Regions from separate parts of the Homo sapiens genome. Here regions 1, 2, 3, 5, 6 and 7 are each linked to region 4. Evidence: fine-mapped QTL for protein levels in blood plasma. Region 4 holds a variant in brackets. A gene starts in each other region. All regions are shown on their forward strands. Region 1 holds the start of CD1C (CD1c molecule). Region 2 holds the start of IL12B (interleukin 12B). Region 3 holds the start of FCRL1 (Fc receptor like 1). Region 4 overlaps FLT3 (fms related receptor tyrosine kinase 3). Region 5 holds the start of IL12A (interleukin 12A). Region 6 holds the start of CD83 (CD83 molecule). Region 7 holds the start of ICAM3 (intercellular adhesion molecule 3).

Evidence for each region. PIP is the posterior inclusion probability: the model's chance that the variant is causal. Protein levels are from antibody-based Olink assays in UK Biobank. Linkage for the fine-mapping came from a reference panel and not from the study's own genotypes, which makes the PIPs less certain.
Region 1: it holds the start of CD1C, and the variant in region 4 is fine-mapped to the plasma level of the CD1C protein (UK Biobank, PIP above 0.99).
Region 2: IL12B starts here. The variant in region 4 is fine-mapped to the plasma level of the IL12B protein (UK Biobank, PIP above 0.99).
Region 3: it holds the start of FCRL1, and the variant in region 4 is fine-mapped to the plasma level of the FCRL1 protein (UK Biobank, PIP above 0.99).
Region 5: IL12A starts here. The variant in region 4 is fine-mapped to the plasma level of the IL12A protein (UK Biobank, PIP above 0.99).
Region 6: it holds the start of CD83, and the variant in region 4 is fine-mapped to the plasma level of the CD83 protein (UK Biobank, PIP above 0.99).
Region 7: it holds the start of ICAM3, and the variant in region 4 is fine-mapped to the plasma level of the ICAM3 protein (UK Biobank, PIP above 0.99).

What each region holds. Positions count from the first base shown.
Region 1 is chr1:158,287,785-158,291,863 of GRCh38, forward strand. CD1C (CD1c molecule) reads left to right here and starts at 2,139. Exons shown (of 6, transcript NM_001765.3): 1 at 2,139-2,341; 2 at 3,350-3,616. The coding sequence starts at 2,281. It also overlaps a transcript of CD1B not described here.
Region 2 is chr5:159,328,442-159,332,535 of GRCh38, forward strand. It overlaps IL12B (interleukin 12B), which reads right to left and starts at 2,046. Exons shown (of 8, transcript NM_002187.3): 1 at 1,991-2,046. IL12B-AS1 (IL12B antisense RNA 1) reads left to right here and starts at 3,077. Exons shown (of 5, transcript NR_037889.1): 1 at 3,077-3,599.
Region 3 is chr1:157,817,754-157,821,753 of GRCh38, forward strand. FCRL1 (Fc receptor like 1) reads right to left here and starts at 2,367. Exons shown (of 11, transcript NM_052938.5): 1 at 2,254-2,367. The coding sequence starts at 2,284.
Region 4 is chr13:28,028,358-28,032,450 of GRCh38, forward strand. The region is part of intron 15 of FLT3 (fms related receptor tyrosine kinase 3); the gene reads right to left. Among named protein-coding and RNA genes, the nearest start is that of URAD, 42 kb to the left of the region's middle. The variant T/C (reference allele first, on the strand shown) is at 1,513.
Region 5 is chr3:159,986,090-159,990,089 of GRCh38, forward strand. It overlaps IL12A (interleukin 12A), which reads left to right and starts at 2,746. Exons shown (of 7, transcript NM_001397992.1): 1 at 2,746-3,085. The coding sequence starts at 3,070. IL12A-AS1 (IL12A antisense RNA 1) reads right to left here. Exons shown (of 10, transcript NR_108088.1): 9 at 3,008-3,204. RefSeq lists enhancers at 405-1,604, 2,456-2,956, 2,957-3,457, 2,957-3,006 and silencers at 2,517-2,716, 2,787-2,836.
Region 6 is chr6:14,114,409-14,118,499 of GRCh38, forward strand. CD83 (CD83 molecule) reads left to right here and starts at 3,364. Exons shown (of 5, transcript NM_004233.4): 1 at 3,364-3,440; 2 at 3,542-3,657. The coding sequence starts at 3,404. RefSeq lists silencers at 2,690-2,984, 3,112-3,231 and cis regulatory regions at 2,727-3,635, 2,975-3,791, 2,975-3,630, 3,796-4,091, 3,867-4,091.
Region 7 is chr19:10,337,917-10,342,010 of GRCh38, forward strand. ICAM3 (intercellular adhesion molecule 3) reads right to left here and starts at 1,708. Exons shown (of 7, transcript NM_002162.5): 1 at 1,623-1,708; 2 at 766-1,032. The coding sequence starts at 1,698. RefSeq lists enhancers at 314-1,062, 1,348-1,447, 1,668-1,717, 1,811-2,558, 2,559-3,306.

The sequences.
Region 1 (4,079 bases), not on the chromosome of region 4:
AGGCTTAACACAATGAAGTTTATTTCTCATGCAGTTAAACTGCATGTAGATCAGGCTGCTCTTCTCCATCTCATAGTCTTGCCATTTAGAAATTTGACTGCCAAGTTGGTACCACAGGGTAAGATGATCAGATGTGATATTTTCAGTGGTCAGGACTGGAGCTGGCTAATGCTTCCAACACCACACATTCCATTGCCCAGAACTCAGTCCATGACCTTAACCCAACTATTAGGAAATAGGACAGTTGCATCTTTCCTGTAGGAACATGGAAAAAAATGTGAATAAACACATAATGTGGTATCTACTATTGTTTTCTAAAACCACAAACCAAGTATTTGCCATTAACAGCACAAGATGAGCAAAGATAACACCTAGTGCTTATGAATGATTTGGGTAGGATTTGAACTGGGTATTGCTCTTAAAGATATTATAGTTCATAGAAATTGCCACATATCTGTGGCCATGATAGGAAGAGCTCATTGAGAATGACTTCTGGCCTCACTATTAACGTTGACAAACCTAAGAAATAGTGTATATATCAAAGTATCATGTTGTACACAGTAAATACATAGAATAAATATAAATTTAAAACAGAAACAATGTTACAAATGGGATTTTCCTTTTTAAGGCACGGTCTTGCTCTGTTACCCAGGCTGGAGTACAGTGACATGAACATGGCTCACTACAGCCCTGACTTTCAGGGCTCAAAAGATCTTCCTGCCTCTGCCTCCCATTTAGCTGGGACTACAGGCATGTGCCACCACATTTGGCCAACTTTTTAATTTTTTTATCGAGATGAGGTCTAACTTTGTTGCCCAGGCTGGTCTCAAACTCCTGGGCTCAAGTGATCTTCCCACCTTGGTCTCCCAAAGTGCTGGGATTACAGGCATGAGTCATTGTGCCTAGCACAAATTCATGCCCAGATTTTAAGTGACTGCTCCAATGCATTCAGTGAATAATTAATATGATTTAAGAAACACTATAATAATAAATGTATTTCCTGGATCTCAAAAAAACTGTGTTCATGTATTTACACATATTAACCAGCCAGGGTCACTGATAAGTCACTGAATACTTCATATAAACTACTTAAATCAAACATTGACAAATGCTGCCCTTTTTATACAATGTGTTTTGGTCAGATCACAAAACAACTTAAATTTGGATTTTTGTGGTCTCCCCATGTATGAGTCCTCTTGAAAAGCTGCATGTTCTGACTATCACAATCGTATACCATTCCACACTGTACAGAATTTTCAGTATTTAGTTGAGATGCATGCTGTTCTTCCAGGACTTCAAATTATGAACTTCCCAGGGGGTTAGTCAGTCAAAATGCTGCTCTAGAGAATATAGTTCTAAGTAGATTTGTATCTGGGATTCTATACATTGAAATTAAAATCACAATGCATTTTAATTTTTTGTTTAAACATCTGCAGTTTAAAACTCTTTGATAGAAGAGATTACATTGTTAACCTCTGTGTGTTTATATGCCTAGTAAGACACTGGTATCAACCATGTACTATGTAATTTTTTAGTGAATGACTATACAGATTAAATGCAGTAGAAGGGCTTCTTTATATTTGTTATGGTCCTATGCATTCTGAATGGCTGCAATTTAATCTCTAAGGATAATGTAGAGTGGACTGTAGTTTATATAATTGTGCAGGGAAATCTTGGAAGATGTAAAAAGCAACGTCTCCAATTTATAAAAGAATCAGTGAGAATGAGGAAATAAGAAAGATGGGTGAAAAGAGGTGAAATTGGAAAGAGAAAACTTTGAGGACATTCAAAAGGGGGAAAGAAAGAATGGAGTGATGAGAAGAGGGGACACTATGGAGAGTGGAGGCAAAGTTAAGTGGAGAAACTGGAAGAACTGTGATCTATTAAAACAAGCAGGAACTGAAAAAATGACATGGTTTCTCCTTTTTATCTTACAAATGACATGCAAAATCCAGAGGGACAAAATGACCTTTCTTTCAATGCCATACACCACTTTGTCTAAGGCAGTTGAGGAAGGGAAGTAGATATAATGGAGCTTAGTGGCAGAGCAGCTGGAATCCTGAGAGAAGAGAATAACTTTAGTTCAGAGCAGGTGGGGAAATGAGAGATTGAGTAGGAGGACCAAGGTTGAGGGAAGCAGATCTTCTTAGTTGCTGTCAGCGGCTGATGGGGAAGATTGTTGGTAGAAGGAAGTCAGAATATAGGTACAGAGGGATAAGTTTGCTAAGAACAGAGATCAGCAAACAGCTTTTCTGAGAGAAAGAAACATCTGCAAATGACATGCTGTTTCTGCAGTTTCTGCTGCTAGCTCTTCTTCTCCCAGGTGGTGACAATGCAGACGGTAAGAACATCGCTGTCAGCTGCAAGGTTACATGTATCTGGGTAGAGTGTGCTGGGCTTTCCCGAGATGGATCAATAGAGATGCCAGAATGCTTGCCATCTGAGCATACCTGTCTCCAGGTCCAGTTTACTCTTTTGGAGGATGGTGGCAGAGCATGGGCTCTGTGTAAGGAAAATGTTATAGCTAAAGTAGTCATTAATGTTTCTCTGTGGTAACTGGTTCAATTTCCATTTCCTCTCCATTTTCCGTTAAAACAATCAGGGCCCAGGAAAATGATGTGGTTTCTCCTTTTTATGTTACAAATGACACGCAAGGTCCAGAGGGATGAAGCAACCTTTCAATGCCACGCACCACTTTGTCTAAGGCAGTTGAGGAAGGGAAGTAGATAAGATGGAGCTTAGTGGGAGAGCAGCTAAAATCCTAAGGGAAGAGAGTAACTTTAGTTCAGAGCAGATGGGGAAATGAGAGATTGAGTAGGAGGCCTAAGGTTAAGGGAAGCAGATTGTCTTAGTTGCTGTCAGTGGCTGATGGGGAAGATTGTCTGTTGGTAGAAGGAAGTCAGAATATAGATGTAGAGGGATAAGTTTGCTAAGAACAGAGATCAGCAAATGGCTTTTCTGAGAGAAGGAAACAACTGCAAATGACATGCTGTTTCTGTAGTTTCCGCTGCTAGTTCTTCTCCTCCCCGGTGGTGACAATGCAGATAGTATGAACATCTCTGTCAGCTGCAAGGTTACATGTATCTGGGTTGAGCATGATGGGCTTTCCCAAGATGGATCAATGAAGAAGCCAGAATGGTTGCCATTTGAGCATACCTCTCTCCAGGTCCAGTTTACTCTTTTAGAGGATGGTGGCAGAGCATGGGGCTCTGTGTAAGGAAAATGGTATAGCTAAAGTAGTCATTAATGTTTCTCTGTGGTAACTGGTTCACCTTCCATTTTCTCTCCATTTTCCTTGCCTCTCTTTTTTTTTTTTTCCTTACACTACTTGCCCTTCTTCCACCAAAAGCATCCCAGGAACACGTCTCCTTCCATGTCATCCAGATCTTCTCATTTGTCAACCAATCCTGGGCACGAGGTCAGGGCTCAGGATGGCTGGACGAGTTGCAGACTCATGGCTGGGACAGTGAATCAGGCACAATAATTTTCCTGCATAACTGGTCCAAGGGCAACTTCAGCAATGAAGAGTTGTCAGACCTAGAGTTGTTATTTCGTTTCTACCTCTTTGGATTAACTCGGGAGATTCAAGACCATGCAAGTCAAGATTACTCGAAATGTAAGTTCAATCATCTAAATTATGGGAGTTCTTTAGAATGTTCTATTTCAGGGAAATATTCTCTACTAATTTTTGGGCCATTTCCCATTATCCCATCCCACCATAAAATTCTGCATAGATGAACCTTTTAAGGGATATTCCTGATGTTGACTCCCTCAAATTTCCTAGGCTCTTGCTATTTTTGGAATTTTTTTTCTTGTGCTTTGTTATCTTCCACCTGTGGTCTCCCTCTGTATCCTACAATCCAGAGATACACAGCTGTCCCACTCTGTGCTTGACTCCCTTAAAATAAAATCTATTCCCCCATTCAATTTCTTCAAAGATCTATGTCCACAGTTCAATGACCATTATGACCAATTTCATGCGTCATGGAATGCTATCCTCCTACCTCCCTCACAAAGGCTCCCCCTTCACCCTCTATCCTATATTATGTGGCTCACCTATCATTTTTCCACATCTTCCT
Region 2 (4,094 bases), not on the chromosome of region 4:
AATGGACCTAATACTTATCTCAAAGGCTTGTTGGGAAAGGCAATGAGATAACATATTATAGAAGGCAACCAATAACATATTAACTTGAACCTAGAGGAAGAGGTAAGGGAACAATTCGGTATCTGTGTTTTATATATCATGGATAGTCAAGAAAGTCATTCTAGGCAGTAGGGAAATGTGCACAGAGGTACTGCAATTACATGCGCCTGTAAAACCCAGAGGCTGGCACACTGGAAGGGAAATAGTGGAGATTCCTGGCATCTCCTGGCCACTTACGCTGAGGTATTCCCACTAGCTGTGTGCCCAGCACTTCCTCTGCATGCCTCAGATGCATTTGACAATCTCAGGTGAACTGCACTTCAGGGTCAAGGGAACCCCGGCCATGGTTCTAAGAAGCAACTCCCATTTTAGTATCACCTACATTTGAAACCACAGAGCACTGTCCAGGAGAGGTGATGGTGGTGGGTCTCCTCCTTTGGCTCTCTGGCCCATCAGCTGATACTAGGGAGCGCTATCCCTCAGCCCACATTTCTCAGCATGGTAAGTCTGAGAGTCTTGATGATTAAAACACATTTTTGTGTGTGCAATTTCATAGGTTTTCTAAACTCTTGAAACCCTTGCATGAAGGACAAAGGGACCCCACGTTACACACTCCTACTTCCTGGAGTATGCTAAGGGCTTCCCAACACTGGTGCCAACATCAGCATGCCAATGACGCTTGGGTGGGCATCTCTTTTTTAAGTTTTGTTTGTTACCTTTAATTAGAAAAGGGAGTTATTATTAAAGAATAAAAAGATATAGTCACAGATGGCATGGGTGGCACATGCAAAGATCCCTAGTTTGAGGGCCAGGCAGACTTCTAGAACTGTGTGACTCTGGGTGAGTCACTTGGCCCCTTTAAGCCCCACACTCCTGATCTATAAAATGGGCATGCTACTGTGGTAAGGAGTTAGTGACATAATTCACGTGAAGTGTCATGGTGCCTAGATGAAGTCAGGACCCACTATTTGCTCCCCTCCTTCCACAGCATTTACTACAATGGCAACAATACAGTCTCTTCTTTACTGTTTGTCTTCTCTGCCACACTGAGTGAACTCTCTTATGCCATGGATCATGTCTATCTTGTTTTGCACTTTACCCCCAGAGTCCAGCACAGAGGGATTCCATGACTTATTAGTAGCATGAAGGAATGTACGGAAATCATACAATTTCAGATTCCAGTAAACTAAACTCTAAGAGGTTACCCACATTCCATCTAGTATCTTGCAATTCCTTGTTTGAAAAAGTGGGTCATCACCTGGGGTTTAGTAATCCCTTTGTTAAAATGACATTGTTGTTGCACACAATTTTACCTGGGCAAGTAAAAAAACCTTTTTTTCCCCCTTCTCACAGATTTAAAAACTCTTTAGGAAGCAATAATAGCTTTTCATTTTTTAACTGGGGCCAAAGTTAGTTAATCCACAAGAATGGGGATCCCAGCTGTCATTTTGGTTGATATCACAACTGACGACCAAGACCATCACAAATATGGGAGCAAGTCTGATTTGTAACATTATTATAATTATGAATCCAATTACTTTAAGGAATGCACGAAAGGCTTTTTAAAAATTTCAATAGTAAGGCAGGCACCACTCACTTTAGCTCTATACAATCCTTTAACTGATGGGCATTAACATTTAGGAATATACTTTTATACATCAATACACACCACTTCAAAATAAGATAAAACAAACATTTCCACAAACTATGCATACACACAGATCTTGCTATACAGTTATTATTAGGTGGCTTTTAAAATGGACACTGTACATCGGTCCCTAGAGTACTAAGTTTTCACTAATGTTCCAGCAGATGACTCACCAGGGATGCTTCCAGGAATCCACCAACTCCCTCCTGCCAGCTGCTGGGGTAGCACACTAACGGTTTCTACACCTGGACAGCTGCAGGCCCACAGGGAGGGGAGGGAGGTAGGGGCTTGGGAAGTGCTTACCTTGCTCTGGGCAGGACGGAGAGTCCAATGGCCCTGAAACAGATGTTGTTTCTTCTGCTGCTGTTGCTGGTACTGGAACTTATATACTCTACTCCTTTCTGATGGAAACTTAAACTAGAAACTGACTTGTTGCAACATTGAAAACAACTCTCAAAACCTTCTGGGGGAATTTCAAGAAGTTCCTTTTTTGTTTGTCTCTCTCTGTGTGTGTATCAATAACGAGGAGGGAACATAGACATCAAAATCCCAGGTAATGAACTAAGAGGAAATGACTTTTGGGTGGGGAATAAGGAAGGAGATGGAGATGCTAATTTCTCTGGGTTTACATCATGGCCAAGGTGCTTGGAGACAGCACTAGGCAGATTCCCTGGGTTCCACAGATCGAGGAAGAAGGAAGGCCAAGGGGCGGTCAGACGGGAGGCTGAGTTCATGTCGGGATGGAACAACTGTATGCCCAAGGGCTTAAAAACAAAATCCTGGTTCTTCCCAAGTCAGAGAGGATGAGATGAAGGGCAAAGGGTTTAGTACATCTGGGGCGCCTTCCTCCACATTAGTCCTTTAATTTCAGAAACATACTATTTACCACCCATCTTGGCTCCATGCACCTCTCCCCACATTCCCCGAGTGGGAACACACGCGTGCACACACACACCCATGCACATTTCATACAGACACAGACCTGGGGAGATGATAAAACTGCGTGTACCACTAATAAGACTCAAATATGTGCACATCCTGTGCTCATAGGTACTCGCTCATAGGGGCGGATGGGAGCAGAAAGTGAAATACCCTCAGGGAGGCATACAGACAACCACACTCAAGGCACCCCCCCTTGGGCACCCAGACTACATCCTCATTTCATTTGCACACAAATCTATGGCCCTAGGGGCTCCGTGCAGATGCACAGGAATAGCGGAATAAAGATATCTCTCGTGGTGGAATTTCAAGTTGCTAAGAGGTATGCAAAGGTGTACACCGGTGTGGACCCCCCCATCCCCCGCCCAGTCTGCACGTGAACAGGAACATGTACCTGCACGTATACCAGGTACACGCAGACAGATGCGGGCCATCCCCAGAGCCGCCGACAGAGGTCGCTGCGAGACGGTACCCGCGCCCCACAGTCCACCCGCTCCTCGGAGTCCCCCCGCGCCCCGGAGTCCACCCGCGCCCCGGAGTCCACCCGCGCAGGTCCACTTCTCCATCCCTGCTCTCGACCTCCGCCCCTGCGGTGGGGGAAGTTCCTGGGGCGGTGGCTGGGACCAGGCCGGGTTTTAGGCGGGCGCAGATTTCCGGGCTAACTTTCCTCGCCGTCTCAGCGCGGGAAGGGGGAAATGGGAAACCCGGGCCAGAGCAGCGGAGCTTCCCAGCCGCACACTTCCTCCCTCCAGCCGTTTGTCTCGGCAGGGGAGGGCCCAGGCAGCCAAGCCGGCAGGCCCACTGGTTATCCGACCTTGTGCTCTGGCCGTGGGTGGAGACCTTACATCCAGCTCAGAGCGCCTCCTCCCATCCCCTGTGTCCTCTAGGCCTCCCCAGACTTTGCCTTTTAGCCTTCCAGTGAAACAAGTTCTGTATCCAAGATATACAATTAAGTGGACAAAGCAGATTGCAGGTATGTTTTTTCGTATGATACCATTTGTGGGGTGTGTGTGCGTATGTGTGTAAGTGCACCTGCACTTTTCACAACTGGTATCTCTGAGGCATATGTAACAACTGGGGGAGGGGCTTTTTGTAAACATGTATTAATTTCCTCCGATCCATCACTAAAGTGTACTGAACAGAAATTGACGTGAAGTAGTTTCACTAATTTATTTACAGTGGCTGCACCACCACAGATGAGTCCTTGTGCCCCCCCATAAATAAATACATGCATAAAATAAGACAAGTAAGGTTCAAAATGACACAAATATTTTATTCATGTGTTCGTAAAAGCACCTTGAAAATTAAAAAAAAAAAACTGTAACGTAAAGTCTCAGTAAAAATCCAGCGCCAGTTATGCAAAAGAAGCTTCGAAGTATGCCCTCATCCTCCCTTTTCCGCTCAGATTGCAGCCCGAGGGCTAGTCCTATATGAAAGGGCCCCCAGTGTTCACCTCCACCAGGGACAA
Region 3 (4,000 bases), not on the chromosome of region 4:
AAAAGTACTTGCAGTCAATACATCTGAGAAAAAGTTAATATCCAGAATATATAAGAAACTCAAACAACTCAATAGTGAGAAAACAACCCTATTAACAATGGTCTAATTCTCAAAAGAAGAAATGCAAATGGCCAACAGGTATATGAAAAAATGCCCAATATCACTAATCAACAGAAAAATGCAAATCAAAACCACAATGAAATATTACCCCATACCTATGAAAATGACTATAATCAAAAAGACCAAAGATAACTAGTATTGTCAAAGATGTCGAGAAAAGAGAATCCTCACATGCTGTAGGTGGGACTGTAAATTAGAACAGCCATTATGGAAGACAGTATGGAGGCTCTTAAAATATAAAAAATGGAACTACCATATGGTTCAGCCATCCCACTACTGGACATGTATCCAGAGGAAATTAAAGCAGTGTGTTAAAGAGATATCTGCACTCCCACATTTATTGCAGCACTATTCACGATAGCCAAGACAGCATCAATGTAGATGTTCATCAAAAAATTAATGGATAAAGAAAATGCAATATACATACATGATGGAATACTATTCAGACATAAAAAATAATGAAATCCTATCATTTACAACAACATGGGTGAGCCTGAAGGATATTATGTTAAATGAAATGAGGTAGGCACAGGATGACAAGTACTGCATTATCTCACTCATGTGGAATCTGAAAACGTTGATCTCATAGAAGGACGGTGCAGAATCATGGTTACAAGAAGCTTGGGTAATAGTGGGGAAGGAGGAATGAGGGAAATGTTGCTCAAGGGATATATAATTACAGTTAGATATGGGGTGTGTGTCCAGAATAGACAAATATAGAGAGACAGAAAGTAGATAATGATTGCATGTGGCCAGAAAATAGAGGGGTGAGGATAGGTGAGGCGTTGGAAAAAAAATTGGGGATGCCTGCTAGTGGGTATGGCGTTCTTTCTTGGGTGATGAAAACATTCTGAAATTGATTGTGGTGATAGTTGCACCACTCAGTGATTGTCATAAAAAACCATTGGATTGCATAACTTAAATGGTGAATTGTATTATATGTGAATAATATTTCAATAAAGCTGTTTTTAATAAAAGATACTGTAGCATGTTTGTATACTTATGGGAATAATTTAGAATGAAGAAACATATTGATGATGGAGCAAACTTTTTGAGAAAGTAAGAGGGTCATGGGCCTAATGCACAAGTGGAGAGTCTTGTCATCAACAAGATGAGGGGCAATATATTCGTGGTAGGGGAAGAGAAGGCAGTGTATGTGAATGCAGAGGTGAGTAGGTCAACAGCAACAGAAAGATGAGAGAGTTTTCTTCTGACTGCTTTTATTTTCTCAATGAAATATGAAGCAAGATTACACAATGAGAGTGAACAGAGAAGTATGAGGTGACAGGATAAGGTATGCAATAGTGATAATGGAGCAACATGGACTGTGAACATGTAGGATAATTGCCTGGCATTGCTGTTGGCTACCTGAGATTTGGGGGTCCTACACTTAAAAGGGGATAAGTCATCAGGGTTGTGCATTTAAAAAAAAATCCCATTCAGCTGTTTATGTCCAGGAGTGAAGCATGCAGAAGGGCGTGTAAACCAGGAGAGTGCTATGGGGGAAGAGAGATGAAGGTGTGCTCGAGGGAGTGTTGTGGTGGTGAGCTGCAGAATCTGAGCTGAGCACCATGAGAAGTGAGCACATGAAGTGTAGTTACTGATAATGGAAAAGTAGCCCTGGGGTAATTGAAGTCATGTTGGAAATAGAGTGCAGGAGAAAGTGAGCTAGAAACACAACTTAGTGGGGGTGGGGGATGTATGCTGAAAACAAAGGAGTGATGATAAGTTCTAAGGTTTGACTGTGGGAATGGGGAGTCAGAGAGGGATAAAAGGAAATAACGTTGGTAGTAAGAAGGGCAAGGAATTCAGAGGCCTATTTATTATACAGATTTTTCTTTTGGCAGCTGTTGAAAACACTGAGAACAAAGACAATTATTGATGGAAAGGAAGACAGACAGTGAACACTTCCTATGAGATAAAAACTGAAATGATAGTTTTCTTGAAAACTCTGGCTTTTTGAAATATCTACAACTTTTTGCCTGACTCTGAGCCCTCCGTGGAAGTGGAGATCTGAGCACCCCTGAGCATTACCTGACAGAACCTTAGTCCTAAGAAGTCCTTACAGCCCTTCAGGAAGCAGAGCCCAAGCATGATTGCATCCCATGCCCTGCTCTGAGTTGCCCAACTCACCACAGATCAACAGCAACAGCCTCGGCAGCATGAGGACCAGGTCAGGGATGGTACCTAGAGATGCCTCTCATCAAAAAAAGAATGCACCTCAGAGTCGAGCAGCAGCAGCTCATCAGAGGTTTGAGGAAGTTGATATCGGAAGTTACCCTTCAGCAGAAGTAGAAGGAAGAAGAACCCTCTAGTGACCAGTCTCCATTTCCTTTTCTATGAAGTCTGAGAAAATTAAAGATGCTCCTTTTTAAATATAGTTTGATTCAGTTCCACAAGCTGCAGATAGTACACATCAATATTTGAGGGACTTTTTCAAGAATTCAGGTATTTCAAAGGAAGTTTTCTAAAGGCAGTTTCCTACTTTGATGAGTCTCATCAGGTTATGGTCCTGCTGAAATTCATCTTTGATACATCTACAATACTTTTCACCTTTGATAGGGATGTCTCCTGGATTGTTTCTAATTGGCACATTCTTCTTGCTCAGCAATATAGTCCCACTATGCAAACTTTCTCTAGTATAGTCATATTATGCAAACATGTCATTAAATCAGGGACTGATGGGGCTGTCACCCCGGTTATGTGTAGTGTCTGACCCTTGCTGCATATGATGACTTATGTACAGGGTCAACCTATTCATACAGATATACGCTTTGATATTCAAACTTTCAGTGTACCAGTAAATGAGCATGAAATCACTGAAAAATAAAATCACGGCAAATTACAATCTGGGGGATATTTGAAAATGAAATACAGAAAAGAAGTATATGCAAATTAGCTTCAGGGCACTTGAGAAGGGTTCACCATTAGTACTAACTCTGGCATTTGTAAAATTGCCCCTCTTTTCCCTCAAAATCAGGGCACCTATAATCTCTCCCATTGCTACCTTTAGCACATTAGGGATACCAGTTCTAGGCAAGTGAAGCCTAGATTAGGGATTGGAGGAGAATAAGCTATCTTAATTTTCAACATTTCTTAAATCCGTGAGTGTCTAGGATTAAGAATAACTAGAATGTGTGGAAAGTAACCTATTAGGGGAAAGATGCTGTCAGGCAATGATGTCTAAGTCCAGGTATCCAGCTCAATGAGTATGACTGAGAAAAGAAACTATTCAGTGATACGCAAAACCAGAGGGAAAAGGGAGCAATGTTGGTAACCAGGCTAACAGCGAAAGTGCTGAAAACGAATAGGTATTCCATAGCTTTATTTATTGGCTTAGGAAAGCCTGTGTGGGGATAAGCTTGTTTAGTGTAAAGTTTCAGGACCAATGCAAAAAAATCTCCTGAATGAGAATGTAGAGCCCTTTAAATCCAGGGTGTAAAGCTGTTTTTGCATACACTCTGCTGTTTCATCTCTCTCTTTTTCTTTTAATCTGTTGGTTTTTTTAATGTTTTAATTGACACATTGTAATTGTACATATTTATGGGGCACAGTTTGACATTGCAATATAATACATATATATGTTGTACAGTGATGATCAAATCAGGGTGGTTGGCATATCCATTGTCTCGTGCAGTTTTCATTTCTATGTGGTGAGAACATTCAAAAGCCTCTTTCCTAGCTATTTTGTAATATATAATACCTTACTAGTAACCATAGTTACCCTACTGTGCAATAAAACACCAAACCTTATTCCTCCTATCGAATTGGCACCTTGTACCTGTTGACCAATCTTTCCCTCTCTTCCCTCCTCATTCCCTCCTCAGTCTCTGATAGATGCTATTCTATGCTATACTTCCATAATATCAACTTCTTATTT
Region 4 (4,093 bases):
TTTTTCTCAGCTCAGAGTCAATCTGCATTATTTATTTAAATTCAAAATTATGAGAGAAGCCAGGCATGGTGGGTCATGCCTGTAATCCCAGCACTTTGGGAGGCCGAGGTGGGTGGATCACTTGAGGTCAGAAGTTCAAGACTGGCCTGGCCAATATGGTGAAACCTCGTCTCTACTAAAAATACAAAAATTAGCCAGGCGTGGTGGCAGGCACCTGTAATCCCAGCTACTTGGGAGGATGAGGCAGGAGAATCGCTTGAATGTGGGAGGCAGAGGTTGCAATTAGCTGAGACTGCACCATTGCACTCCAGCCTGGGCAACAAGAGTGAAACTCCATCTTAAAATAAATAAATAAATAAACAAACAAACAATATCCTGTGTTTTAAGACAGAATTTCTCCTTTTTCTTTTTTTTTTTTCCTTTTCTTTCTTTCTTTTTTTTTGACACAGTATCTCACTCTGTCACCCAGGCTGGAGTGTAGTGACATGATCTCAGCTTACTGTAGCCTCTGCCTCCTGGGCTCAAGTGATCCTCCTACCTCAGCCCTCCAAGTTACTGGTACTACAAGCACAGGCCATCATGCCCAGCTAATTTTTATATTTTTTGTAGAGATGGGGTCTCACCATGTTGCCCAGGCTGGTCTTGAACTCCTAGATTCAAGCAATCCTCCCAACTCCGCCTCCCAAAGTGCTGGGAATACAGGCATGAGCCACCATGCCCAGCCTAAGGCAGAATTCAGACTGTAGTATAGGGCTGGGCGCAGTGGCTCACACCTGTAATCCCAACACTTTGGGAGGCCAAGGCGGGTGGATCACTTAAGGTCAGGAGTTGAAGACCAACCTGGCCAACATGGTGAAACCCTGTCTCTACTAAACATACAAAAAATTAGCCGGGCGTGCCGGTGCGTACCTGTAATTCCAGCTACTCAGGAGGATGAGGCAAAAGAATCCCTTGAACTGGGGAGGCAGAGGTTGCAGTGAGCCGAGATTGAGCCCCTGCACCACTCCAGCCTGGGTGACAGAGCGAGACTCTGTCTCAAAAACAAAACAAAACAAAACAAAACAAAGACTATAGTATAAATGTTGAATCTGGTAATGCACCTTTCAACAGGACTTTCCTCTACCTACCAAAATAAAAATCCTTACAGTTGGCCCTCAAAACAAACAAACAAAATAATAACACATGCTTTTCCTCCTCAGTACAAGTTAACAGAAGGGAGAAACGTCCTTTTTGTTTGTTTGTTTGAACTCTTGGATCTGTTGTAGTCAGAGAGAGATAACAGTGTCGTGAGCATGGTTGACTCTAGCCTGTGGCCCTCAGGTCTAGAACATTAGATTTGCCAGCAAGTCCAATGGGAGAAGGTCAAAGAGGACTAATTCCCACTATCAGGTGCTCAAGAGACCCATTAATTGACATTGAGAAATAAAACTGCCAAGCAGGCTAGAACATATTGGTTGGCCAATGCATTCTCTCTCTAGGGAAAATTCCAGATAGCTCAGCAAACTGTACTTA[T/C]AAGCTGACTTAGAAGCACAGTGTGAGGAAAGTCACTATGGAATCCAAGGGCTCCCGTCATTGCGGCTCATGTGCAGTTGGTCAGGGCAGCCCGGGCAGCCACAGGGGCAAGGGCAGGGTCTCTGGACTTCCCTCTCCAGGCTCCAGGCACCACCCCTCTGTGAACAGACTTTTTCTTCCAGATATAGTAACTCTTCTTTACATTCAGTGAAGATTTGGTTCGATTGCCAGGTTCCATTATTTTGTCCAGGAAGGCATCCTAACCTTTATAGTGGCTTCTCCGGTGCTGACATCCTCTATTTTGGTTTGGGCAAGCTCTCAGGGGTATCCTTGTTTCCAAGATTTTAGCTTGGGGGTGGGATTTCCTGTGGGCACTGGGACCCCCTAATACATCATGTCTTCAGCTTCACGCTGGACAGGGATTCGGGGCTTTACTTGTTCATGTCCTATTCCTCATGGCTAAAATAATATCTTACATTTTTTAGCATGCTTAGCTTCTTCTAAGCATTTTCATGTACCATTACCTCTTTCATTCAGTCATTCAACAAGTATTTATTGAGTGCCTACTCTGTAAGAGCCAATGTCCTAGACACTGGGGAATGAAGGAAAAACAAGACACAACCCTTGTCTTCCTGGATCTTAGAGTCTCCTGGAGAAGGCAGAGAAGTAAATAAGCCATGACAATACAGTGCCATAAATGCAATACGGCAGGCAAGACGTGGGTCCCCGCGCCTCTAATCCCAACATCTTGGGAGGCTGAGACAAGCGGGAGAATTGCTGGTACCCAGAAGTTCAAGAAAGGCCCGGGCAAAATAGCAAGAGCTTGTCTCTACTTAAAAATAAAATAAAGTAAAAATACATAAATAAATAAAATAAAATAAAATAAAAATTAGCTGGGCTTGGTGGTGCCTGCATGTAGTTCCAGTTACTGGAAAGGCTGCAGACCATCACTTGAGCCCAGGACTTGAAGCTTGCCGTGAGCTATGATGACTTCACTGCACTCCAGCCTGGGTGACAGAGTGAGACCCTATCTCAAAAAAAGAAAAAAGAAAGAAAAAGAAAAAATGCAACGTTGGGCTGGGCACGGTGGCTCATGCCTGTAATCCCAGCACTTTGGGAGGCTGAGACAGGCGGATCACGAGGTCAGGAGATCAAGACCATCCTGGCTAACACGGTGAAACTCTGTCTCTACTAAAAATACAAAAAAATTTAGCCGGGCGTGGTGGTGGGTGCCTGTAGTCCCAGCTGCTAGGGAGGCTGAGGCAGGAGAATGGCGTGAACCCAGGAGGCGGAGCTTACAGTGAGCTGAGATGGTGCCACTGCACTCCAGCCTGGGCGACAGAGTGAGACTCCGTCTCAAAAAAAGAAGAAAAAATGCAACGTGGCAAAGGAGTGCAGGGGTACTGTAGGGTCAAAAGGGATAGCTACCTTAGCCTTGGAGGGGTGGAGAAAGGAGCATTCAATGTCTAAACTGAGTCCTGAAGAAAAATGGGAGCTGGCCAGGTGACTCATGGTGGAAGGGGAGGAGAACAGTGCTGAGGGTTGTGAAAGAGTGGGCAAAGGTCGAGAAAGGAGAGAGCACAGCACCACAGACACAGACCCTGCCCTCATGAGGCACAGGGGCTACTGGACAGATGGGACAACAATTGGATGTTAAAAAATGTCATGACAAAGGTGATGGATTCTACGGGGGAAAGCCTGCAGAGAGCTAATGTCGCACATTGCAAGGGCCTCAATATTGTCTGTGGTGTGAGACAGAGGAAGTGGTGTTTAAGCTGAGATCTGAGGGGGCAGTGGGAGATACTTACATGAAAGGGGAAGGGGAAGCAGAAGGATCCACTTGTGCAAAGGCCCCACAGTGGGTGGGAGGACAGTGCTGGGGGAACTGAAAGAAGGCCAGCGCTCTGGGGTGCCGAGAGCAAGAGGTGGGGAGGCAGCGGTGGCCCAGCCATGCGGGTGGTGGAGGAAATGTGAAGTAGGAAAGCCATTTGATCTGCTTAGCCTTTCGCCACTGTCACTTGGACCTCAGTATGGAGAAGCCAAAGGGAGGCAAGAGTGGATACAGGAACCTGCTTTGGAAGCTTTTGTCCAGGAGAGAGCCTTGAACTAGAGTGGTGGTCATAGAGATGGAGGGACGAGGATGGAATCAAGAGACACTAATCGGAAACCTGATAGGATTAGCTCACAGGGTGTTAGAAAGAGGAAGGTGTCAAGGAAAAGTCACGGGTTTCTAGTGTGCCCAACTATATAGAATGTGGTTATTTATTCACTGGCATTCATTACCAGTCACAGAGAGGACTGCTGGTGCAGGGCCAGGGTTAGGGGAATTCACCTTGCATACACTGTGTTAAAGGGACCTTTGAGACATCCAAACATTTAACATATGAACCTGAAGCTCCGAAAGGAGACGCAAGCATGAGGGCCCTTGGTGTATGGGAGGACATCACGGGTGTAGTGGGGATGGACTGTGTTGAGTGTGTGGAGCGAAAACGCAAGGCGGTCCAGGAGCAAGCCCACAGGGATGCCCCATAAAAAGCTGGATGGAGCCTGGGCAACATGGCGAAGCCCCATCTCTACCAAA
Region 5 (4,000 bases), not on the chromosome of region 4:
CCAGGAGTTTGAGACCAGCCTAGGCAACAAAACTAGACTCCGTCTCTACAAAATACAAAAATAAAAATTAGCTGGACATGATGGTGTTGCCTGTGGTCCAAGCTACTCAGGAGGCTGAAGTGGGAGGATCACTTTAGCCCAGGAGGTCAAGGCTGCAGTGAGCTGTGACTGTGCCACCACTACACTCCAGCCTGGGTGATACAGTAAAACCATGTCTCAAAAAAAATTTTTTTAACTTAGTCATAGATTTTATTACATCTGTATTTTAGAGTAGGCTTATTATTAAGTTTCTGAGAAAATTTATTTGTAGCTTGTATTGGAATTACATTGAGCATGTGAATTAACGAAAAGAGGCTTAAGCTTTCTATATAGAGAAACCTTCCACCCAAGGGTATAGAATTATTTAATTAAATCACACTATATTCTTGACTGAACTTTAAAATTTTTCTCCAAACACTATTCTGTAGTTATCCAAGCTCATGTAATAATCATAATAACTCTATACTGTAGGTACTTTTATTATCATCATTTAACAGATGAGGAAACTGAGCCCAGAGAGATAAATAACTCACCTAAGAACACACAGCAAGTAAGTAGCAGAACCTGGATTAACATAGTTTAGTCCATACTCTTAGCCATTATACTGCCTCTGTATCTACAGTCAGTTACTTTATAGTTTGGCTGCTTCTATGCATGTCATCTTGTTTTTATTACATTTTCTGATGGATTGTTGCAGATACAAAGAAAATCGGCTGATTTTTTTTAAGTTGATATGTGTATTGCATGATGTTGTTAAATTCTCTTCTTAGTTCTAATAGTCTATTAATTTTTTTTCTTTTTGTATATCAACTGTAAAAAGTGACAGTTTTACCTTTTCTTTTCCAATGTTTAAAGCTCTCATTTCTTTTTCTTTCCTTATAGCATTGGCCGAGACCTCCACGACAATGCTACACACTGTGAAGTAGTGATTGTGAGCTAAGACTGTCACTTATAGAAAAATCATGTATTCCTAGAAGAAGGTTTTCATTTCATCTTAGCTAGAGGACATGGAGCACTTCAGGAAACTATTTCACAAAAATGTAAATTAGAAACTGTGTCTGGTAGCCAATAATCCATTTTTAACAGTGGCCCTGTGCTCATCTAAGCAACAGAAATTACTTTTGTATAGGAGATGGCCCTTCCAGGGGAGAAACAGCTCAGTTGTGATACACTTGTCTTCATCCTGACTTTAAGTACATTTAACTCCACACTAAACCCTTGTGGCCACAACACAGCTCTGCACCTGTCATTTGCTCTAGACAAACTGCTAAACGCAATTGTTTCTGACAATGGATTACTCTGTATCCCGTGGGGGAATTCTCAGACAGCAGCATTAGAAGGGGCCTTAGAGATCAACCATTTCTCTTATTTTACACACACCTAAAACTCCCTACAGCCGTGCTTCATCAGCTTCGAGCAGATGAGCCACCCAGAAGGCAGCTCCAGTTATTAGGTCCTAGGGCCTGGGTGTAGTCAGGCCCTTTGGAAGCTCCAAGTCAGAGATCAAACACATCCTCCCCACTACCCACGCCTAGGGTGACTAATGCCTGTGGGAAAAACAACTGAACTAAAAAGTCCCACAGGAACCTCAAACCCAGCACATCCAAAATGGAACTTCTCACCATCTCCTCCAAACTCAGTCCTCTTATACAGTAATCCCTGTAAAGCTAGAACAATCTCCATTCCCCATTCTCAGGGCCTTCCTCTCCCGCTCACCTGAGGAGCTACCAAGCCTTGGCCCACAAGCCCTCTGAGAGTCCCTCCTGCCCACCCTGTGTTCTCCATACTGAATAAGGACTTGGCCACACCTTGTCAACTCTTCCCTCTGCTCTACTCCTGACCCCTGGATCCATCCTTCATGCTGTGGCTGAAGGGATCCCCCCATCATGCAAATTCTGCCACATCTCCCGCCTAAAACCCAGGAAGACTCCCCACTACTCTCAGCACAGAAAGTACACTCCTTAGTATGGCATCCCCTGCCCTCATGGCATGGCCCCATCCAGCCCTCCAGCCTCACACCCTGCAAGGACACCTAGACCCCCACCTCCCTCAACCCTTCATGACTGCGCTTCTGATCCCTGTTTCCCCTGGCTAGACCCTGCGTGCCCTCCCGCTGGAAGCGGTCTAATGCCTGCTTGTTTTTAACACTCAGGTTGGGGCCCCTGCCTGCTCCCGGGAGCCTTTGCTGACTCCTGGACCCCGTTGCTCCGGCTGAGCGTGGGCTCTTTCTCTAGGTCTTTCCTCCCAGGACTCTGTGTATTCATCCTATCGTTAAACTGGATTCTCTACAAGAGTAATAATTGCAGAGTCAGCCAGCTCTCATCCCTTTTCAGGTTTCAGAAAAGACCTGTGAACAAAACGCCTTGAGTCTGATTTAGTGTGGCAATGCCCCAAGGGTCCTGTTCTCCCTGGGTGTCCTGCACCTGGTGCAACGTCGGCCTGGCATCTAGTGAGCCATCTAAAGGAACGATGATGAGTGAATGATTTGCCTACCCCTTCCAGTACTAGGCTGGAGGTCGTGGTTAGGGCCCATCCCTACGCAGGACATGCAAAGTGGGAGGCACTCCTCTCTCTACGTCGGCAGGGGGCGCTGCACAGCTGCGGGGCGGGGTAGCTTAGACACGGGGCGTCCGGCTAAGGCCGGGGACCCAGGGTGGTGGGCGGGGTGTCCCGCCCGCCTGTGGACCCCGCGCAGTAACTGCGAACATTTCGCTTTCATTTTGGGCCGAGCTGGAGGCGGCGGGGCCGTCCCGGAACGGCTGCGGCCGGGCACCCCGGGAGTTAATCCGAAAGCGCCGCAAGCCCCGCGGGCCGGCCGCACCGCACGTGTCACCGAGAAGCTGATGTAGAGAGAGACACAGAAGGAGACAGAAAGCAAGAGACCAGAGTCCCGGGAAAGTCCTGCCGCGCCTCGGGACAATTATAAAAATGTGGCCCCCTGGGTCAGCCTCCCAGCCACCGCCCTCACCTGCCGCGGCCACAGGTCTGCATCCAGCGGCTCGCCCTGTGTCCCTGCAGTGCCGGCTCAGCATGTGTCCAGCGCGCAGTGAGTACTCAGCCCGCCAGGTCTTTGGCTCGCTCGGGTGCGGAGGGGCGGCTGCTTGGGAAGAGTGGGTAGAAACTCAAGTCTGCCTAAGGAGAGACTGGAACAGCAGCAGCCGTCTCCTGCAAAGAGGAATAAGAATAGGGGTCTCACCGTGTGCTAAATAGGGCATGTCTCTTTTCATCTCGAAACAGCCTGATGAGCTATCATTATGCCCACTTCGTAGAGGAGAAACTGAGGCCCAGCGTGGGAGATTTCCTGCTTTCCTGCCTAGGGTCCCTCAGCTACAAACAGAAGGCAGATCCTAGCCAGTTCTAAAGTCAGGCTTGGCCGGGTGCAATGGCTCACGCCTGTAATCCCAGCACTTTGGGAGGCCAAGGCGGACAGATCTCCTGAGGTCAGGAGTTCAAGACCAGCCTGACCAACATGGTGAAACCCCGTCTCTACTAACAAATACACAAATTAGCCGAGTGTGGTGGTGGGTGCCTGTAATCCCATCTACTCGGGAGTCTAAGGCAGGGAAAATTGCTTGAACTCGGAGGTGGAGGTTGCAGTGAGCCAAAATCGTGCCACTGCACTCCAGTCTGGGCCACAGAGTGAGACTCCGTCTTAAAAAAACAAAAAAAGTCAGGCTTTCTCACTCCACTGTTTTTAAAACACTGGGTCCCAAGTCTGACTCAGCCACTTCACCACCTGGTCTGGGTTTCCCTGATCAAAAACATGTAGGCTTTCTCTGGGTGAGTGTTGGGTTCAACACCCTTGTCCAAGCTCATCTCTAGACCCTCACAGGGAGCTGGCTTCTAGCCCTAGAATAGAGTGGCGCTTTGTAATAACTCGAGTCATCTCTCAGGTGTTGAAGGAAAAGTGTTGGAAATGGGTTGAGGGAGGTGGGTGCCAAGCATGAATGGATGGGTGAAG
Region 6 (4,091 bases), not on the chromosome of region 4:
AGTAGCAACACAATGTGAAGGTATCCAGGAAGAAATCTATCAAAAGATGTGAAAAACCTATATATATATAATTTTAAAAATTCTTGAAGACCTAAATAAATGGAAAGATACACAATATGGGATGAATTTGTAGAACTGACTTCTAAAGATGTTGATTTTAGGAGATTTATAAATTGAATATATTCCTACTAAAATTCAAATCAAGTTTTTTGAGGTTCACAAATTGATATAATATGTATAAGGTAGAACAAAGAACCAAGAATGCCAGAACATTTTTTTTTTTTTTGGATACACAGTCTTGCTCTGTCACCCAGTCTGGAGTGCAGTGGCACAATCTCGGCTCACTGCAGCGTGGACCTCCTGGGCTTAAGCGATCCTCCTGCCTCAGCCTCCTGAGTAGCTGGGACCACAGGTGCAAGCCACCATGCCCGGCTATTTTCTGTATTTGTTATTTTTTTGCATTTTTAGTAAAGACCAGGTTCACCATGTTGCCCAGGCCAGTCTTGAACTCCTAATCTCAAGTGATCCGTCCACCTGGGCCTTCCAAAGTGCTGGGATTACAGGCGTGAGCCACTGCACCCAGCCACCAGAACGATTTTGAAGACGAAGTTCAACATGTGAGGACTCACTTCCACCACAGCAAGACTTAATTAAATTATAGTAATAAGAAAGTGTGATATTAGCACAAAGAGAGGCAGAATAGAGTCTAGAAACAGGCCCACTCATATGTAGAAATTTGTATAAAGCACAGATGTCATTTTAAATCAGTAGGGAAAGAAGGACTTTTAGCAAGCAGCATTGGAAAAAATGGTTATCCATATGGAAAAAATAAGTTAGATCACGACATCAAACCATATTTAAATGGATTAAAGACCAACATATGAAAAAGCATGACTTTAAAAGTTTTGGAAGGAAATGAAGGAGAATGTTTTTATGATCTCAGGTCAGGAAAAGATTTCTTAAACACAATACCAGAAGCACAAATCATAAACCAAAAGATCAGTAAATTTGACCACATGAAAATATTTTTTAAAAACTCTTTGGTAAATTAAAGATATCATAAACAAAATGGAAAATACAAATCTTAAACTTGGAGAAGAGATTTGGCATGGATATAACCAAGAAAGGATTTGGCCCAGATTTTATAAACAGCGCTCATGGAAAAGGCCAAAGGATATGAATGACAATGCTCAGAAATATCCAATGTTCTTGAAGCATATGTTATCAATGTAACATAAATTAAGCAAAAAGGATCTAATATTTCACACTCATTAGATAGGCAGAAATTTAAAAAGATCTGGCTGGGCACGTGGCTCACACCTGTAATCCCAGTACCTTGGGAGGCCAAGGTAGGAGGATCTCTTGAGCCCAGGAATTTGAGACCAGCCTGAGCAACATAGTGAGACCCTATCTTTAAAGAAAAAAATCTGATCATGCTAAGACCTGCTGAGGGGAGTGTAAATGGGCATGTGCATTTTGGATAATAAGACGGCAATATTTAACAATGCAGTGTAATTACTGAGCTAGAGTGTTGGAAGACTTTCAGCTCCCCTGCAACATTGTTTATAATCAGGAAAAACTGAAAAGAAGCATAAATGGCTAGGTATGAGATCTGGCAGAGGACACATAGTGGGTCTCAAAAGACCATCCTGGCTAACACGGTGAAACCCCGTCTAAAAATACACACACAAAAAAATTAGTCGGGCGTGGTGGCGGGCTCCTGTAGTCCCAGCTACTCGGGAGGCTGAGGCAGGAGAATGGCGTGAACCCGGGAGGCGGAGCTTGCAGTAAGCTCAGATCACGGCCACTGCACTCCAGCCTGGGAGACAGATCGAGACTCCGTCTCAAAAAAAAAAAAAAAAAAAAAAAAAGAGGGTCTCGAAAATGTTAGTACTGTTTTATTTCTCAAGAATAAATTGTATACAGATGTGTTCAATTCCATATTTTCTATACTTATTTTGTATGCTTAACATTTTCACAATTAAAAAATTAATTTGGTGAGGCTGCTGGAGAAAAGGTACTCACACAAGCTGGCGGGACTGTCAATTGATATAACTACTTCCAAGAGCAGATTAGAACTGGTGGTATAGTGATGCCACTCTTTTTAACCTCTTGGATGGACAAAGATAGAAAGGTTGGATAACAGTTTGTGTTGGCAAACAGGCACTCTCTTTGCAGATGGGAATATAGATTGAAGACACCTCCTTGCAGGTAATTTTTTGGCAATATTTGACAAAATTGGAAACTCCCCTTCACCTAGCACAATTTCCTTGAGGTATTTATTCTAAGAAAATAAGCAATTTTAGAGCAAAGATTTATCTACACTGAAGTTTCCCATAGCAATCACAGTATTGTTTCTAATATTAGTAATACAAAAAGAAACAACCTGTATGTCTAACACTAATCGATTCTAATTTATGGTGCAACTGAACAATGGACCAAAATGATGCTGTTGGAAGTTTTTAATGATGTGGAACCGCTTGCAAATTATTAAGCTAAAAGAAAGTAGGTTACAAGATAGCAGGAAGAATAAACCATTAAAAATACCAATCTGTGCACTGACAAATGTTATAAATATTTTACGTTATGTTATGTTATAAACATTTTATAATATAAAAAAATGTTAACTGAAGTTACTTCCTGGATGAATTACAGGTGATTTCATTGTCTTCTAGAATTTTCTTTTCCAAAAATGTTGTGTATGCGTGTAATTATTATTTTAATAGGAGACACTCTCCTTTGGTGATATAATTTAAACAGGACGGTACTGACTGATAACCTCCCGGGGAAGGCAGGGAGCCAAGTACTACAGACTTGTATGTTTCCATGGAAATCTAACGCGCCTTTGATTATCACAGATTCTGGAGAAGAGTGAGGACTTGGGTTCACCAGTGCGTTCCCAAGGACAGGCTGGGCTTCTGAGGAAGTTGCCCACCCTCTCGGAATCTGGTTTGGCCTCCGTAAAATGGGCAGATCCCGCTCGGATGGCCCGGTTCCCGGCTTCCTTTTGCGGGTCAACGGCAGCGTCACGCGCGCGAGCGCGGTCTGCAAAGCCCCCAGCGCTGGGCGTCACGCGGGGATTGCTGTCGCCGCTGCCAGCCGCAGCAGCGACGCGAACTCGGGGCGCCCGGCCCGGGCGCGCGGGGGCGGGGACGCGCACGCGGCGAGGGCGGCGGGTGCGACGGGGGCGGGGACGGGGGCGGGGACGGGGGCGAAGGGGGCGGGGACGGGGGCGCCCCGGCCTAAGCGGGACTAGGAGGGCGCGCCACCCGCTTCCGCTGCCCGCCGGGGAATCCCCCGGGCTGGCGCGCAGGGAAGTTCCCGAACGCGCGGGCATAAAAGGGCAGCCGGCGCCCGCGCGCCACAGCTCTGCAGCTCGTGGCAGCGGCGCAGCGCTCCAGCCATGTCGCGCGGCCTCCAGCTTCTGCTCCTGAGCTGCGGTAGGGCTCGCGAGCGCCTGTCTCGCCTGTCGCCCCCCGCCCCTCCACGACACCCCCTCCCGTCGGTCGCTTGCTCACGACGCGCTCTCTCTTTCTTGTAGCCTACAGCCTGGCTCCCGCGACGCCGGAGGTGAAGGTGGCTTGCTCCGAAGATGTGGACTTGCCCTGCACCGCCCCCTGGGATCCGCAGGTTCCCTACACGGTCTCCTGGGTCAAGGTAGGTGCTGCGATACCCACGGGCTGGGGTTTGGTGGGCTCATTTGAAGACAGCAGGAACCATCTCCCCTAGGCTGGCGACCCTCTGTGGCTGCCAGGTGGGGGCGAGGGGCGTCTCCCGCAGCTGAACTTGGAGTACCCAGCCTCCCGTCGCGCCTCCCCCACCCCATCCGCATCCAGGTACAGGGCCGAATTAGGTTTTGCTCTCCGCAGACCTCAATCCCCTTCCTGTCACTGAAGGTGGCCTGAGATGAATGATCCACTTAAGATGTTTTGGAAGGGCAGAGACTCTCATTTGGATTAATTCTGGAGGCCACCTGTGGTTGTGGGCCAGCAGGTCAGGAAGAAAGCAACAGGGACCTAGATTTGGGCATTGGACAGGGGGAATGTCTCCAGACTTCTGATTTCTTGTGTTTTGTGACTGTGATGCCCATG
Region 7 (4,094 bases), not on the chromosome of region 4:
CGCAGTGGCTCACACTTGTAATCCCAGCACTTTGAGAGGCTGATGTGGGCGGAACACCCCGTCTCTACTAAAAATACAAAACTTAGCTGGGCATTAGCTGGACCTGGGAGGCAGAGGTCGCAGTGAGCCGAGATTGCACCACTGCACTCCAGCCTGGGCTACAGAGTAAGAGACGCCATCTCAAAAAAAAAAAAAAGCTTGTTGGGGCCGGGCGCAGTGGCCCATGCCTGTAATCCCAGCACTTTGGGAGGCTGAGGTGGGCGGATCGCCTGAGGTCAGGAGTTCAAGACCAGACTGGCCAACATGGTGAAATGCCATCTCAACTAAAAATACAAAATTTGCTGGGTGTGGTGGCGTGCATGTGTAATCTCAGCCACTCGGGAGGCTGAGGCAGGAGAATCACTTGAACCCAGGAGGCGAAGGTTGCAGTGAGCCGACATCGTGCCACTGCACTCCAGCCTAGGCAAAAAGAGCGAAACTCTGTCTCAAAAAAAAAAAAAAAATGCTTGTTGGGGCCCAAGTTAATTGATTTCACAACTGCTGCCTTGGCATGAGATTGAGATGCGTCTCTATATCTCTGTCTCTGTCTCTGTGTCTCTGTCTCTGTCTATCTTTGTATCTCACACACAAATGTCCAGGTCTGAGCTCTGGGTCAGAACTGTGGTCCATTCTTTGCAAACTGAGGGTCCCCACTCTCCTGAGCCATTGGCCACTTGCCCACACCACTACCCAAGACCAGTCCCACCTCCGGACACGTCGACTCACTGTACACGGTGATGTTAGAGGAGCCTGTTATCTGAGAGCCATTGCAGTACACTGAGCAGAGGATCCGACTGTTGCCAGTCACGTTGCTGAGATTGAAGGCTGCCCAGCCCATGCCACTGGCCACCAGCTCCTTTGATAGGGACGTCTCCAAGGCGATTTTCTCAGAGCTGGGACAATCAGTACTGCAGTTCACAAACAGGGACCCTCCAGCAGAGAGCACAGGGTTCTGGGGCTCCACCCGCAAAAGGAACTCCTGCCCCTGGACACCTTCAGGAACATGAAGAAGTCCTGGTGTTTGTTTCCTTGTCCCCCAACCCACGCATCAACAGGCCCCACCATTTAACACCTCTCTCCTTGTGCCGAGACAGAAGGGTTCCTGCCTTCATGGTCCAGTGGGAAAGGTAGAATCCATCAGAGACCGGGGAGAACTCAGAAGGAGGCCAGAAGAGGCTCTGATCCAGCATAGGAGGAGGTGAGTCAGGGAAGGCTTCCTGGAAGCGGGGACCATTGCAGCCCGAAACTGAAGGCTAAGTAGGAGTTAGCAAGTGAAAGGGACAGGTGATCCTGGCAGAGGGAAGCACATACGCAAAGGGCAAATTTCAGGAGTTCAGATGGAGCAGGAAGCATGAGGGGTGTGTGTGTGTGTGTTAGGGGAGAGGGATGGCGTACAAGCCTATGCTGGGGCCTGACCACCTGAAGGCTGAACTAAGGAACCAGAACTTTCTCCCGAGGATACAGAGTCAGCGGCCAGGTCGCAGTGTGGCAGGATGTGAACAGCGTTGCGTTCTATTCCTCTACCCTCTACTGATCCCCAAAACGCAGCCCTCTCCAGCCCTCCCCGGCTTGACTGGTCTCACCTGGGGTCAGCAGACAGCAGACCAGCAGAGTCCAGCAGGCCCTGGGCCACAACACGGATGGTACCATGGTGGCCATTCTGACAGAGGAAGGTGCCTTCCTGAGGTGCCCGAAGGGCAGGCAGGGGAAAAGGCGGGGCCTCCCACTGCGACGGAAGCACAGCGGTTAAGATTGCAGAAGTCTGGGGACTGCACCTTGCCCAGGCCTGTGGGTGGAAGGGGATGCTGTGGCCCTTGGGGGCCAGGGTGGGGGACCCAGACGGGGCTCTGCAAAGTGGCCAGCACTGCTGAGTCTCCCCCAGGGAATGGGCTGGTCCCAGTTGCACTGCTGGCCCCCATTTGAATTCACAGGAAATGCTAACTAAACTGGTTTCTTTTGTTCTCAGCACTGGGAAGCCTGGGTGGGGGGGATGAGGCATCTCCTTCTGGCTGAACTTAGGTGGGTAGGGGAATATTCTGTCCCCAGAGAGGAAGTTAATGGGGAAAACTGTAGGCACCATTGTGTAGATGTTAAGGTGGGATTTCGAGGAAACATTAAAAAACAAAAACAAAAACAGAAACAGAAGCAGAGTCTTGCTATGTTGCCCCGACTGGTCTTGAACTCCTGGCCTTAAGATGGCCTCCTCTCATCTTGACCTCCCAAAGTGTTGCGATTACAGGCGTGAGCCACCACGCCTGGCCACCTTTGAAGATCTTGAGGATACCTCCCTATCTTTGAAGATCTTGGGGATCCCCCATCCCCTGCACAAAGAGCTAAGGTAGGTGATTTGGGGACAGCTGAGTCCCTGAGCCACTGTCTATCCAGGATTCTACTTGGTTTTTGTTTGTTTGTTTTGAGACAGAGTCTCACTCTGTCACCCAGGTTGGAGTGCAGTGGCGGGATCTCGGCTCACTGCAGCCTCTGCCTCCCGGGTTCAAACGATTTTCCTGCCTCAGCCTCCCGAGTAGCTGGGATTACAGGCATGTGCCACCACGCCCGGCTAATTTTTGTACTTTTTGGTAGAGACGGGGTTTCACCATGTTGGCCAAGCTGGTCTCAAACTTCTGACCTCAAGTGAGCTGCCCGCCTTGGCCTCCCAAAGTGTTGGGATTACAGGCGTGAGCCACTGCGCCCGGCCTTCCAGGATTCTACTTGTAACTGGCCTTTACCCCATCCTGTTGTCCCCTTGCCCACCCTTCCAGGCAGCTGGTCACTGCATTCCAAGGGAAGGCGCCAAGGGGACCAGGTGGGACCCCCACCTTTGACCTGCCTCTGACCTCAGGCCTCTGACCTGCCTTCTGGGCTTCACATCTGAGCTCCAGAGAGAGAGGCCTTGTTGAGAGCCTTGATGGGGCCCTGCACTCACCCACTTTCCCCAGACCTTGAGGTCACAGCACCTCCTCTCTCATCTAGAGCACCCCCACCTTCCTAAGCAGGTCCCTCCTCTATTCCTCTACCTTCCGAACAATCCATTTCCCACCTGGTGTTGAGAGAGCAGCTAAAACCCAAGTCTAGTGTATTTGTAAACAGCAGGGACCAGTAGCATGGGCCTGGTGCCTGTAGTCCCAGCTCCTTGGAAGGCTGAGGTGAGAGGATCGCTTGAGCCTGGGAGGTCAAAGCTGCAGTGAGTCGAGATTGTGCCCCTGCACTCCAGCCTGGGAGACACAGTGAGACCCTGTTTCCACAAAAAAAAAAAAAAAAAAAAAAGATGTCGGACTTACTGGCTCACGTCTGTAATCCTAGCAGCACTTTGGGAGGCTGAGGTAGGTGGATGACGAGGTCAGGAAATCGAGACCATCCTGGCTAACACAGTGAAACCCCATCTCCACCAAAAATATAAAAAATTAGCTGGGCATTGTGGCGGGCACCTGTAGTCCCAGTTACTCAGGAGGCTGAGGCAGGAGAATCACTTGAACCCAAGAGGCGGAGGTTGCAGTGAGTGGAGATTGTGCCGCTGCACTCCAGCCTGGGTGACAGAGCAAGACTCTGTCTCAGAAAAACAAACAAACAAACAAACATATATATATAATTTATAATACTTACGTAATAGTGAGACCCTGTCTCTAAAAATAAAAAAGAAAGAAATATTTGTAAATAAGTCATATTTCTTTTTTGTTTTTTGAAACAGAGTCTCACCGTGTCGCCTAGGCTGGAGTGCAGGGGCACAATCTCAGCTAACTGCAATCTCAGCCTCCTGGGTTCAAGTGATCCTCCCACCTCAGCCTCCCTAGGAGCTGAGACCACAGGTACACACCACTGTGCCTGGCTAATTTTCTGTAGAGACGGCTTTCACCATATTGCCCAGGTTGGTCTTGAACTCCTAAGCTTAAGGGATCTGCCTGCCTCGACCTCCCAAAGTGCTGGGATTATAGGCGTGCCCTGCTACACCCGCCAGTAATATTTCTGATAAAGAAGTATTTCTGGGCCAGGTGTGGTAGCTCACGCCTGTAATCCTAGCACTTTGGGAGGCTGAGGCGGGCAGATCACGAGGTAAG